4 linked regions of the Homo sapiens genome follow. The protein of the gene in region 1 purifies or fractionates together with the protein of each later gene. This does not show direct contact. Each region holds a gene or a part of one and is shown in the gene's direction. Other genes may lie near its edges.

Region 1 (3,500 bases):
CAAACGTGTCAATATTTATAGATCTTTTTGCAGATACCTGTCAGCAGTAGAAGATAGGGGTGAGCATTTGGGGTAGGTGTGTATGTGAATACTGTGTTGTGGAACTGGAAAAGGAAGTAGAGCAGGGAGGAGGTAGAGAAGGTGGAGACGGTCTCACTCTTCAGTTTATAGGCTTTTATTACTGGGAATTGTTCTCTCAGTGTCTGTTCGTGTCTCTCCCCATCTATTAATAAATGTTTTCCCGGTGTCCACATGTGTGGGGTGCACTCATTTAACTGGCCCCCCAAATGAAAGAGAGACCCTGGAGGTTCTAACCACACCATCTACTTTAAATCTGTCTCCTTATTTTCAGCTTTAAGCCTCTTGCTACTCAGAACCACCATGACTTGAACCAGTGAAGGGGGTTCTGCAGGCAGGAATTCTCTCACTTCTTACTGGCATCCTCCTTGGCAAACATTTTAGGTCATAGTTTTCCCCTCCTATGCCAAATCGATTACCACTCTGCTTATTGTCTTCAAAACATTAGATTAAATCTTTCATCCATGCCTGTCACTTTGTACTCATGTTCCTATGATTTTGCATCTTTTAAAAATTCCTTTACTGTTGTTTTACTAGAGTCTTAGAGAAAGGAGGCAGAACATGGGTGGACAATTAGTTATGTTAAACCAGAAGTCCTGATATTTGAGAAAACAAATCAGACAAATTATATTTTTCCCTGAGTTTTTTTTATTTTTAAATTTTTATGTGAAATTAACTTTGTTTTTCTTTTAAAAGAGGTGTGTTTCAGGATAGCTTTTCTATTTAACTCTGCTTCTGTTGTTTTCAAGTAGTATAGTACTCACAGATAAGGCAACTTTCTTTTTCAGTTCTTGTCGACTTTTACCTGGGCCTTCTCCTCTTTCCTTTTCCTTGGCGTCCCTCTGCTGCTCACTTCTAGTTCCACTCTGCCAGTTTCTCCTTACTGTGGGCCATTCTCCTGAAAGTGGTTCTTGGCTCAGTTTGACAAACACCCAGGTGCTACATTGCTTCAGCCCTTTAAATCTTAACACACACTGCAGCTATTGGATTGGGCGAAACTGCTTTTTAGCGTTGCTTTCATCTTGTCCTGTTGTACTTTGAATGCATGCTTCTTGGCTGCGCTCAGGTTTTCCTATGATCAGAGTGGGTCACACTTCCCTTGCTTCCCTTTGCTTTCTCCTGCACACAAGCTAAGACCATGGAGGTCTTATAGCTGTTATTGCTTTGTCTTTACCCTCTTGTATCTTGAGGTCCATGAAGATATCTTGTCACCTGGTTTTATGTAAATGTTCGTGGGTTTTTGGTTTTGTTCTCCAGTCACTTTTTTATGTTTATGTGTACAATTCAGAAAAATTAAAAAACTTTGCCACCATCTTCCTAGAATCCTCACTTAACAACTTTATGGAAAAATTTTAAAATATATATTCTGTGGCTATTAATCCTGTATTCTTAGAATGCTTGCTTTTGCCTTTTGAGGCTAGGGCACCTCTGTTCCTTTAGTCTCAAATGGAATAGTTTCAGTTTCAATAGCACTTTGCCTCTTTGAAGAACTTTTATAAAATTCTTATGTTTGATTTATTTTCACTATAATTTGCCCTCGATACCTAAATGTTATTTTTTTTCTACTTTTCTTATTGAATAGCATTTATTTATTGGGTATATAACCAATATTATTTGAATAGATCATCTTCTTAAAGTGGGAGTACCAGAACCAAAACTAATTTAGCTAATATGTATTAAACTTACACAGATAGAATGCTCTATTAGGTGCGGGTGATACAGCAATGTAATATTTATAGATATTGGCCATATTTTTTTATTTATGAATTCAATTAGGTAGTAAATGATAGGGAAAAGGAAAATTATTTGGATATACTCTTTAAGATTAAACAAGTGTATGAGCAAGGCACTGTTAGGTTCTAAAGATAGAATGGTTTACAAGACACATTTCTTGTATTTCTTAGTGTGTTGTGAGGGGACAGCTGAGTAAAACAGGCAATTACCATGTTTATTTATTTATTGGAAATGCATCATAAGGGTAAATGCAGGAGCAGCCAGCTTTTTACAGGAAGGAAAAGGGAGGAAAAAGGATATGGTTCATAGTTTGGAGAATAAAGCTAGCTTCTTAGAATCCCCTTTTGATTTTTTTTCAATGCAACTGCAAATTTTTTTAAACTTGGATAATTTACTTTATTCTCTCCAGAATAATCTCATATTTTATTCTTTCATTTGGCCCACTGGAGAGCAGTTTTGCATTTTGTTTTTCTTGATACAGTTCCAGCTGAGGTTGAACCAAGTGACTGCATCAGAAATTTAGATTAAGAAATTGGAAAGGAGCTGAGGAAAAAATTACAGCATAATTTTTTTTTTTTTTTTTTTTTTTGCTTCATATAGTAAGTTTACCTCATATACTTGGGGAAAGAAAACATCTGTGTGTATGTGTGTGTATTGAGAAGTTAACTGTAAATTTACACAGTATCTAAAATGGAACTAGGCTAAAGTGAATATTTTTCTTTCTAGATCCCATACAGTGGTCCACAGACCAAGTCCTGCATTGGGTGGTTTGGGTAATGAAGGAATTCAGCATGACCGATATAGACCTCACCACACTCAACATTTCGGGGAGAGAATTATGTAGTCTCAACCAAGAAGATTTTTTTCAGCGGGTTCCTCGGGGAGAAATTCTCTGGAGTCATCTGGAACTTCTCCGAAAATGTATGAAATTACAGTTATTTCTTTACATTGTAATTTAAGCTTAATTTTATTTCCTTGTAACTTTGTTTTCATCTTAGTTGTTTATTGATAATGATAAGTAATAAGCAATAATAATTAACATTTATTTACTGTATAATGCTATGCTGAAAGCTCTATATGTTCTTTAATTCCTATAGTAACACCATAAGTCATTACTTTGCTTATTTTTTAGATAGGAAAGTGAGGCTTTGAGAGCCCCATAAAGTCACAGCTAGGAAGTGGCAGAGCCAGGATTCAAGCCCAGGCTAACATTAGAATCCAAGTTCTTAAATCAGATGCTGTGCCCTACACTTAGCCCTCTTCATATATTCCATTTGTTGCCTTCTGTTTGATCAGCTCTTACATTTACTGCTCATCTAGAAACGGAAGAGATCATTTGTTTACAGGTGGCTTCCTACCCATTCTCTTCATTATTGATGAGATTAAATCTTTTTTGAAGTCTTTACTATTAATTGAATAGAGTCTTAAGAGGGAAGGAAGTGTATGCAGCCACCTTTTGGCATTGGAAGCCATTGGTTATAAGTTTTTCCACTTATAACTTGTAAGGCTTCAGACATTATTATGATTAAGTGACCATGTAAAGAAATTGGATGAGGCAGGCAGATCACTTGAGGTTAGAAGTTCGAGACCAGCCTGGCCAACGTGGTGAAACCCCATCTCCACTAAAAATACAAAAAATAGGCGGACAAGGTGGTGCGTGTCTGTAGTCCTACCTACTTGGGAGGTTG
Region 2 (3,500 bases), on another chromosome or scaffold:
GGTCTGTGTTTAAACCCTGGCTTTGACCCTTACTAATAGTGACCATGGATACATTACCTAGCCATCCTAAACCTCAGCTTTGCTCTTCTGCAAAGTTAGGATAATAATAGCACCTACCTCCTAGAATAGTTGTGAGGGATTTCTTCAGGTTATAGCACTTAGTAATTGTTCTATATTATTAAATCTGACATTTAGTGACTGCTCTATATTATTAAATCACTTTGATAGCCTTAGATAAGCATATACTTCTAAATAATCTTGTATGGAAGGCGAAAAGAAATGGTAGAATTCATTTCTTTAAAAATATTATTTCTCTATGTTTTGGAAAGCCTTGATTTGGAAGAAACAGGCAAATATGACTTTTTTCCATTCTGAAGTGATTTCAGCTTTTTAGATAGTCAATGTTTTGTTTTATGGATGCTTTGTTCAGGCCATTTGAGAATATGAAGCATCCTTGTTCCATTTATTTCCCTAACAATTTTTAAATTATTTGAAATAGCCACTCCCCTCTTTCACTCTCTTGTTAACTTTATTTTTTGCTTTATTTATTCACTTGCTTTATTTTTTCTTTGTTATACTTATTGCTACCTGGAATTTTATTGTATAAATATCCCTGTGCATTGTCTCGTCTTTCTTGAATGTGTAAGCTCCATGAGAGCAGGAACTTTCTCTTACTCACCATGTCAGGGAGGAAAAACTTTTCTTCTATCCTCAGGGTTTGTTATTGGGGGCCTGCAAATTAAACTGACTAAAGACAGATTAGCAGGAGTAAAAAGAGATTTTATCACATAAGTACATATATATGTAAGTACATACAGAAGTTCACAAAGAAATATGACTTAGAATTGGGGGCTTATATACCATCTTAATAGGTGAAGGGGAAGGAGAAAATGGCACTTATTGGGGGGGAAAATGACTTTTTGGAAAGATAATTTTCTAGAGACAAATTTACTATGCTGGACATCTTACTTGTCCAAGATCCCAAAGAAATAGAGAAGATCTAGTAAAAATTAAACATTAATAGTAATTTTTAAAATTTAATATATTCTGACTTATGTTTCTATTCTCACTGCCTTATTATCCCATTCAAGAGAAAGATATTAAAATTCACTTGTTTTTTTTTTTCTTTTTTCAGGCAAAAGGCAGGATTGTGGTAATGCCAGGTATTTATTTATCTATCAATTCACTAGCATAACACTGAACTATAGTGGAGGAAGAGCAAAGGAGGCAGGAAAATGTGAGAGAGAGTATTAGTACATTACATATTAGTACATGATCTTTAAAGAGAAGAATATATAGTTTGATTAAAATGTTTAAAACTGGGAGATCTGTGCTAGAATTTAAAAGTTTAGATAAGAAGGAAAATATTGTAATAGGCATTAGCTCAAAGAGGAGCAAATAAGGAAGCAGATAGAGATTGAGGTTTCTCCATATTTGCTCTCCCATTATATAGAACTTTATGAATTCAGATGTTCATCTCTGGTGAGGCACATCAAATTTGATGCTAATCATATTTTGTTTAGGACAAATGTCCTAATAAACAGGGTTTAAGCAAAGGTTTAGGCAACATCCTTGGGTAAAATATAATACTGTCTCAGTTCCTGAAAATCTCTGATTGCCAAATTATTTCTTGTAACCAGAATTTAATCATATGATCCTGATGATAACCATAAGATCAGTTAAGTTCATAATGGCTAACTAGAAATGAACAGTTGGAGCAGTTTTTAAAGAATTAGATAATACAACATAGAAGAGTGAGACAAATGTAAAGACAATCTTAATTTTTTTAATTAAGTTTCTCAAACATATAAAAAAGTAGAAAATAGCATAATGAATACTCATATGCTCATTCCCTAGATTTAACATTTTGCCAAATTTGTCTCATCTTTTTTCTATCCTGAGGTATTTTATTAAAGTTAAATTGAAAGCATCATGGCATTTTATCTTTATTTATCTCTAAAAAGGGTGGGATGTTACCATAATGACAATTCCATTATCACATCTATCACAATAAACATTTAATACTCAACTTTCTCCAATTGTCCCCACAATGGTTTTTATAGCTGATATGTTCAAACTAGGATCCAGTCAAGGAACAAGCATTACATTTTTGGTTATCTTTTGTTTGTTTGTTTGTTTTTAGAGATGAGGTCTTGCTATATTGGCCAGGCTGGACTTGAACTCTTAGCCTCAAGCGATCCTCCTGCCTCAGCCACCCAAGTAGCTGGGACTACAGTTGCACGCTGCCATGCCCAGTTCTATTATCTTTTAAAATATCTTTAATATAGATGTTTTTCCTTTTATTTTTCTTGCTTTAAAAAAAAGTTACATTATTAAGTTTGGGCTGGGCCCAGTGGCTCACGCCTGTAATCCCAGCACTTTGGGAGTCTGAGGCAGCCAGATCACCTGAGGTCAAGAGTTCGAGACCAGCCTGGCCAACATGGTGAAATCCTGTCTCTACTAAAAATACAAAAATTAGCCGGCCATGGTGGCATGTGCCTGTAATCCCAGCTACTTGGGAGGCTGAGGCATGAGCATCACTTGAACCAAGGAGGCGGAGGTTGCAGTGTGCTGAGATTGCACCACTGCACTCCAGCCTGGGTGACACAGCAAGACTCCGTCTCAAAATAAAATAAAAGTTTGGATCACTTACCCTGTAAAATGTCCTACTTTCTGGATTTATCAGATTATTTCCTCATGATATTGTTTAGCTTGTTCCTCGTGCCTCTGTATATCCTATAAACTAATAGTTAAATCATGAGGTTTGAATAGACTCTGCTTAAATATTTTTGGTCAGAATACTTCATGGGTGATTCTGCATACTTACATCATATGACATCACATCAGAAGGTATTCAGTCTCTGGTCATCTCACTACTAGTGATGTCAAGACTGACCAGCGTTCAAAATAGTGACACCTAGATAAAGAGTAACTTTTAAAAAGAGGCCGTGAACCTGGGCAATATAGTAAGACACCATCTTTACCAAAACGTAAAAAAATTAGTTGGGCATGGTGGCGTGCTCCTGACGTCCCAGCTACTCTAGAGGCTGAGGTGGGAGGATTTCTTGAGCCCGAGGTCAAGGCTGCAGTGAGCTATGATCGCACCACTGCACTGCAGCCTGGGCAACAGAGTGAGACCCTGTGTCAAAAGAAAAAAAAAAAAAGGCCATATAAGGGGTATTGTCAGATATTTAGGAAGGCTTTGACCTATAACAAGCCCTTGAAACATAAGCAGAGAGAAAGTATATATTATCTGTCAAATTGTGGTCCTTTTTGGTTAATCAAGGAATGTTAAAGAGACTCTGAGTGTGATGCTTTTCCATTTAGCACTAAATATATATAGTTTTGACAAGTAATACTTAGACAATTGTTGACATTAAGAGTACCTTTGTTTAATATGCAATTGTTATCAGCTGTGTGCAAGGCATTACTTGGGATGCAAAGCTACACAAGAAACTACGTTCTCAAGAAGCTGACTCAGGTCAAAAGATGTTACATAC
Region 3 (3,513 bases), on another chromosome or scaffold:
ACCTTGGTGAGTTATTTCACCTCTGGTGGCCTCAGATTCCCCAATCATCCCTTGAGGAGTGTGAACTAAAGGCTCTCTGAGATCCATAATCTCAGTGGCTCTCAACTGTGCTCTGTCTCTTACCCTGGGGAGTTCATGATCTGTAGAGGAAAAGTGGGCTTCCTCATCAGAGAGCTCCTAGAATGACAGGCATGATGGGCATATGTTAGGCTCCCCACTGAGATTTGTTGAATAAATGAGGAAATAAACACTGTGGTGGGGACACCGTTGCTTTAAGCAGGAACAGCTCTGACCCTCGGAAAGCCCCCAGGAGATACAGACCCAGAAGGAGGAGGAAAACCTTGCAGCCAGCAGGATCTCTAGGTATTGGGGCTGGAGCTGGCAGTGGGCAAAAGTGGAGAAGGATTCAGCATTGAGGACCCCATGGATGGGCTGCAGGGAGGCAGGTAGAAAAGGCTTTTGGGTTTTCAGGTGGGGGGCAGTCTAGCCTGATCAGAAAGGAGGAAAAGGCCAGGGCCAGATGTCTGGGTGGAGTGAAGGGAAAAAGTGATCCCAGAAGAAGGATTAGCCCCTGAAAGTCCCTGAAGTAGGAGAAGGGTAAAGGTGTGGTTGGTGAAGGAAAGCAGGTTTTCCCAGATTAGCAACCAGTCAGGGGGAGGAAGGTGAGAGTGGGAGAGTCATAAGTAAATTATTCTGAATGTGTGTAGTTTAATGGAATTGGGAAAAAGATGGGGGAAATGGATGGAAGGGTCTTGGACTCTGAGACAAGGGGTCTATAATCAGTCCATTTCATTATTTCTAGCTTCCACCTTCACCAAGGCAGACAAGGAGGGCCCACCTCAGCTCCTCTGCTCCCCCTCCCTTTCCCACCTATTCATGTGTGCAAGAGTGCCCTGTCCCACAGAACACGGGGAACAACCATCTCAATGACAAGGACAGCAGGTGGCAAGGCCTCAACAGGACTCAGATGTCCCCCCAGGGTTAACTCATGAAACCCTCCATGAAGCCTGCTGCTCACCCCTCCCTCAAGGCAAGCCCTGCACCTGGGTCTGAGGATGAGGGTGGCAGTGAAAATTAGGCCAGTGACATCATTTTCAGCCAGCCAGTGCCAAAAAATATCAGGTGGTGTTCATCAAAAAAGCTGAGCCAACCGGTGATGAGGATGGTAGTGTGAGTCATGTGTGACAGGTGAGGAATGAAAACAGAGTGCCCGAGAGCTTCTATTTCCTTGAGGCAGGGCTCATTCATCTTATAAAAGCCAGCTGGCCATTGCCTTCACACCAAACCCAAGGGACCACACAGCCCATTCTGCTCCGTATACCAGGTAAGTCTCTGATTGCAACAAACTGGCAATTCTAGTGTACTTTTTCATTATTAGAAATTAGCTAAAGGCAAATATGTGTAAGCAGGTTAATCCAGGGTTTCAATGGGAGATAGAGAATAGTGGAATATCTTTATTTTAAGTTAAATTACAGTCTGGATTTGAAAGGACCTTAGAGATGGTTAGGGCTCCCACCTCAGTAGATAGTCATTGAACTGGGAGTCCTGGAGAAGATTGTTCAAATGCCCATGGGAAGTTCATAGCAGAACTAGAACTCAGGCCCAGAGCACTCTCAGTAACACTGCAATTTCCCCCTGACAAGATATTTATAGAAATTTTAATTTATTAGATGGATCTCTACTGAGCATTTATTCCATTTAAGGCAGTATGCTAGGCACTTTGGACAAATCAATGCCTAACGTACTTACTTAACAAACATAAAACCTAGCAGGAAGGTAATACATATATATAAATAAATGAAATGCAAAGTAGATAGTAATTGGCATGACGGAGATGGGCAGAGAAGGGCTGTGCACTTTTGGGAGACCTTGCTCAAGGAGACCCTCCTAGGGGTGTCAAGTGATGTGAGCTATGATGGAGGGGTATTTGGACAAGCAGAGATGGGAAGAAAAGCATTTGGAAGGGACTGTGTAAGCACAGACCAGAAGCAAAACCATAGAGGCTTAGATGAATATAAAGCCATCCTATAAGTCACAGGCTTTCTACATGGTACTAGGAGAGGAAAGTGGTCTGATGCCATTTTCCAAAAGACCTAATATGCGGACCTCATGTCCCTCAGAAGCCAGCTTTAGTAGGGCATTTTTCCAGAACAGATATAAGTTGCCTTGGGTAGGAAGGGAGCCAAGAAGAGAACTCCAATAAAATGGAGCAGAAGAAATTGCCTTTTAGCTCCTCCTCTTCAAAGGGCCTGAAAATTATCCAAGCTTATTTCATTTTTAAATGTAATGGGGGAGTTAAGGGAGATGAAAGGCTTTCTCTTCTAAAGGGTCCTGAAATAAAATCTGTTTGGCATTGAATTTGTATCCATCTTTCTTTAATTGAATCACTGTGTCAGCTTTCTGTCTCTAGAAAAAAACACATTTGAAGCATGAATTCTCAGCAGCAGAAGCAGCCTTGCACCCCACCCCCTCAGCCTCAGCAGCAGCAGGTGAAACAACCTTGCCAGCCTCCACCCCAGGAACCATGCATCCCCAAAACCAAGGAGCCCTGCCACCCCAAGGTGCCTGAGCCCTGCCACCCCAAAGTGCCTGAGCCCTGCCAGCCCAAGGTTCCAGAGCCCTGCCAGCCCAAGGTGCCTGAGCCCTGCCCTTCAACGGTCACTCCAGCACCAGCCCAGCAGAAGACCAAGCAGAAGTAATGTGGTCCACAGCCATGCCCTTGAGGAGCTGGCCACTGGATACTGAACACCCTACTCCATTCTGCTTATGAATCCCATTTGCCTATTGACCCTGCAGTTAGCATGCTGTCACCCTGAATCATAATCGCTCCTTTGCACCTCTAAAAAGATGTCCCTTACCCTCATTCTGGAGGGCTCCTGAGCCTCTGCGTAAGGCTGAACGTCTCACTGACTGAGCTAGTCTTCTTGTTGCTCGGGTGCATTTGAGGATGGATTTGGGGAAGGATCAAGTGAACCATCCCTAGTCTTCCTTCAATAAATAACTTTTAACTCCACATCTGGCTGTGCGTCACTGGTTGATTCAACCTCTGTTGCCTTCTCAGCGTGAAGTAGGAACTAACACTGTGAAGGCTGGTTGTGAGGTCTGTAGTCAGAAGGTGGCCGATCCTGACACTGAGAATGTGTGTGAATGTGTATGGCTGCTGTACACACAGGACACTCCTGGGCTGGAAGTGGGAGTATGTTCAGGGCCACCAACCCAATCTGTTACTTTGGGTAGGCAGAGCTAGAGCAAGGCTTTTTTCTTTTACCTTAATGTTTATATCTTAATGACTTGCAGTGAGTCACATGTGAGTGTAGATGGTGCCCGCTTCAAGCCATCATCATCTTTGTTTAGTTGATTCCTTTTTAAAAATTATTCCAAAGAAACAGTGCTTGTGCATAGTCCAGCCTAGTGATCTGTTCTGCACTCATCTTCCTTTTCTGATGCCCCCAATACATGGAGCCAAGGACTTGAACACTCACACCATACCCACAAACACATATTCACTCCCAC
Region 4 (3,500 bases), on another chromosome or scaffold:
CAGCACACCAAGTGTCTACTGAGCCCATACATTGGGCACTTTTCCGTGCTGGTGGGGGAAGGGGGAAGGAGGACAGGAAGCAGGTGTGTAGAGCAATGAGGAACACAGACAGGTGCAGGGATAGTCTTGAGAATTCTCTGCTGCTGAGGTTCTCTGCAGCCATCCCCCAGTGGGTTCCAGGGCACAGAACCAAGTCCGCACATCCCTGCATGGGGCCCCCTCTCTCGGCAGCTGGTCTCTCCTGCTCCCCAGCCCTTCCTGCCGGCTTCTGTGGTGCTGAAATCTGTGTCAGAACCTTTTCTGTTCCTCAAAGCTGCCTGGCTCTGGTTCCCTCTGGGCCCTTGCACAGGTGGTCCTCCCAGCCTGAATCTCTCTCTTCTCTGCTTTTCCCTTTTACCTTGCTAACATTTTTCAAGTTTCAATCAGCTGCCACTTCCACTGGAAGCCTTTCTTGTTATGGAATAGGTGTTCCCAATGCCTGTACTTACTCATCACACACACACACTTCTTGTGTCTAGTGGTGTTTGCTAATTGTCTGTCTTCCCAGTGGGCTCCTTAAGAACAAGGACCCTGTCTCTCTGTCCCTCATTGTAGCCCCAACACCTCCTATAGTACCTGCATAATAAGCGTACATGTTCAACCCAATGGACCAAATGCATAAATTACACATTCAAAGAACCTAGAGATTATCTAAAGGCACGCGTGTGGTCAGTGATAATCCATTTGGTAATAGAAGTCGAGTAAATTTCAGAAGTGCCAGAAGAGAGAAGGGAGAGAGTGATGAAGTCACAACAGGAGAGGGGAGCCAGGGAGGGCCTCTCAAGCCGGTAATAGCTAAGTAGAGTCTTCCAGAGTGAGAAACAAGGGCTTTTCCATTAGCAAAGGAAGGTGGCATCCAGGAGGGGCATTTGTAGCAGAGTATGCTATGCCTGAGCAAGGGGTAGGTGAGTGGGAAGAGAAGGGAGGGAGGTGGACCCTGGGCTGTTGCTATTGGTGTTGACTGCAGAGGCTGCAGATAAATTCACTGGCCAGCAGTGGGGCCGAAGAGAGGGGAAGCAGTCAACTCTCAAGGCCACATGTCATAGGGTTCCCAGAGAACTCTTTAAGAGCCAGGACCCTGGCTATCTGTCCCCCATTGTAGCCCCAACACTTCTATCTCCCAGTAGATCGTCTCTGTGCAGAGTCAAATTGGTGAAGTTTCTTAAGAAAAACGTTTTGAGGAAGCATGACCAGAGGAGGGAGATGAGTCCAGAAGCCTTCAGGATTGTCCAGGGGAGAGATAAGGAGGGTTTGGACCAAGGGAAAAGCAAAGAGATGGAGAGAAGCTGGGGCTTGCGATGTCTCGGGGAGGAAGAACGATGTGGGGAAGGAGGGTGGCCGAAGAGTGCAGAGTGGCCATCAGTCTCCTGACTTGGAAGATGGCAGCATGGGTAAAATGGCCTTCTTGGAGAAAGGGAGAGATGGGGCACTCAGGGTGGGGGCAGCTCTGGAGGTCAGTTCAGAACAGGTTGGCAAAGAGTCCAGTAGGTGGATGGATGGATGCGAATGTAACTTAGAAAGAAAATTCCACTTTAGTCAAACAGGCAAATACAAAACTACACAACAGAAATCGCCAATCACATAAGTGGAAATGGAGAGAAATGAACAGGTTTGCAAAAGAATTACTCATTCAGTAAAAGGGTTCTTTATAAAGTTCCATCTAAGTTAAATTATATCTGGTATAATAAAATGTGATTCATTTACATATTTCATTTCCACAGAGAAATTGTTGGGAATGTGGCTGTCACATTATGCTTGGTCTGACATAGACAAGTGACTATGTGTGGCAATATTTTTGTCGCTTTTGGCAAAGGTTCTCTTATCTTTTCCTTCTCCATTTCTGGCAAAATAATTGTTCACTTATTGACTGAATTCTTGTTCCAGTGGGTAAAGTCTTTCCTTCACAATCAGGAGTAACACTTCATGCCGGTGCTCCTAGGAGAAGAGTTGGTGGCAGCCATTCACACTGTAGTATAAATGACTAAAGAGCAAAGTCTGATGAAGGGCAAGGGGGATTATGAAGGCACTGTGCTTGTGAAAAGGATGATGGGGGGAAGGACATCCAGGTCATGGGGGGGAAATTATAAAATTTGTGAGAAGAGAAAAGCCTTCAGACGGATGTGACCTATTGGAGCACACACCTGCTTTGCTTTCCCCTCTGGCTGAGCACAGACCTCCCCTGGCCTTGCATTGGATTCATACACCTTCCTTCTCTAAAATGACCACTTACTGTTGTATCTCAGGGTCAACGCACAGGGTTGGAGCTCCTCTGTAAAGTTGTGTTAAAGGAAATGAAATCTTTCTGATGAAACTGAACAGGTGAGGGTGCTGTAGGCAGGGCTGGGGAGACCTGTGAGCAGTACTTGATAGAGTTGCTCCAATCAAATTCTCTCTGACTTCAACAAAACAACAGTAAAAGTAATGTATTCAGCGCTCACCATGTGCTGGGTCCCGTGCTGCACAATTTGTGCCTTATCACACTCAGTCCTCTGAACAACTCTGTAAGGTAACTATCTCTGTTTTACAAAGGCAAAACAGAGAAGTCCAGAGAGGTTACTTGTCCACCACGAATGTCAGGGTTAGATTCAAGCCCAGCCCTGTTGGGGTTTGAAATTGCTATCAGGTCATTTAGTCTGAAGTCTCCTTGGGGCCAAAGCCATGTCAGCTGAGGCTTGAAGGGGAAGCAGACAGATGTGACTAGAACTGCAGCTCATCAGCAACTGACTGCCAGTGCTCAGGGCACCTGAAGGAGCACAGCAAAAAGGACAGCCTTTTGCTCCAGGTTTCCACTTTTTGAGAGATATGAACACATTAGTAAAATGCCTGTGTCTGGGAACAGGCAGCCAGGGTGAGAAAATAATCAGATCTACACAAAATGGATAAAGAATGTGTGGAGGGACCTCCAAAGGGTGAGAAACCACTTCTGGCTGCTAATGCAATCTGGGTTCACATACTCAATTCTTAAAAAATAAGTCCATGAAGCAGAAACATCAAAAAGCATGGGATTTGGAATTTGAGACCTGACTTTGAAGCCCACACAGAACACAGACAAGTCAACCATGCTATTTGGGGTAAGTTGCACAGACTCTCTGTGGCCTGTTTACTCATTTGCAAGTAAAACAGCAATAATAAGATCTACATCATGGGAATATTGTGAGGCTCAGAGATTATGTGAGAGAGCTCTGCTAACTGGCCTATCTGTCCTCATTCTGCTGCTGATGGCGTGGGGGTGTTAAAGGGTCTCTGATTCAGGGCCTGGACCCTCAGTTTACCCCCTCAATGGTTCTTACTTCTCTTGCAGACATATTTTGTTCCAAAATGGCATCTTACCTTTATGGAGTACTCTTTGCTGTTGGCCTCTGTGCTCCAATCTACTGTGTGTCCCCGGCCAATGCCCCCAGTGCATACCCCCGCCCTTCCTCCACAAAGAGCACCCCTGCCTCACAGGTGTATTCCCTCAA

The links. The genes of interacting proteins can lie anywhere in the genome.
Region 2: the proteins of GABPA (region 1) and CUTC fractionate together in Homo sapiens (co-fractionation; one large-scale study listed by BioGRID). This does not show direct contact.
Region 3: the proteins of GABPA (region 1) and SPRR1A purify together in Homo sapiens (affinity purification with mass spectrometry; one large-scale study listed by BioGRID and IntAct). This does not show direct contact.
Region 4: the proteins of GABPA (region 1) and SERPINA9 purify together in Homo sapiens (affinity purification with mass spectrometry; one large-scale study listed by BioGRID and IntAct). This does not show direct contact.

Annotation. Positions count from the first base shown.
Region 1 is NC_000021.9:25,755,472-25,758,971, forward strand, and holds part of GABPA (GA-binding protein alpha chain), read left to right. Parts: intron 1-2,538; coding exon 2,539-2,733; intron 2,734-3,500.
Region 2 is NC_000010.11:99,749,234-99,752,733, forward strand, and holds part of CUTC (copper homeostasis protein cutC homolog), read left to right. Parts: intron 1-1,135; coding exon 1,136-1,163; intron 1,164-3,500. UniProt on the Homo sapiens protein: May play a role in copper homeostasis. Can bind one Cu(1+) per subunit.
Region 3 is NC_000001.11:152,982,802-152,986,314, forward strand, and holds SPRR1A (cornifin-A), read left to right. Parts: upstream 1-1,279; 5' UTR 1,280-1,324; intron 1,325-2,396; exon of another isoform or gene 2,397-2,410; 5' UTR 2,411-2,429; coding exon 2,430-2,699; 3' UTR 2,700-3,013; downstream 3,014-3,513. UniProt on the Homo sapiens protein: Cross-linked envelope protein of keratinocytes. It is a keratinocyte protein that first appears in the cell cytosol, but ultimately becomes cross-linked to membrane proteins by transglutaminase.
Region 4 is NC_000014.9:94,469,698-94,473,197, reverse strand, and holds part of SERPINA9 (serpin A9 isoform A precursor), read left to right. Parts: intron 1-1,923; exon of another isoform or gene 1,924-3,110; intron 3,111-3,340; 5' UTR 3,341-3,357; coding exon 3,358-3,500. UniProt on the Homo sapiens protein: Protease inhibitor that inhibits trypsin and trypsin-like serine proteases (in vitro). Inhibits plasmin and thrombin with lower efficiency (in vitro).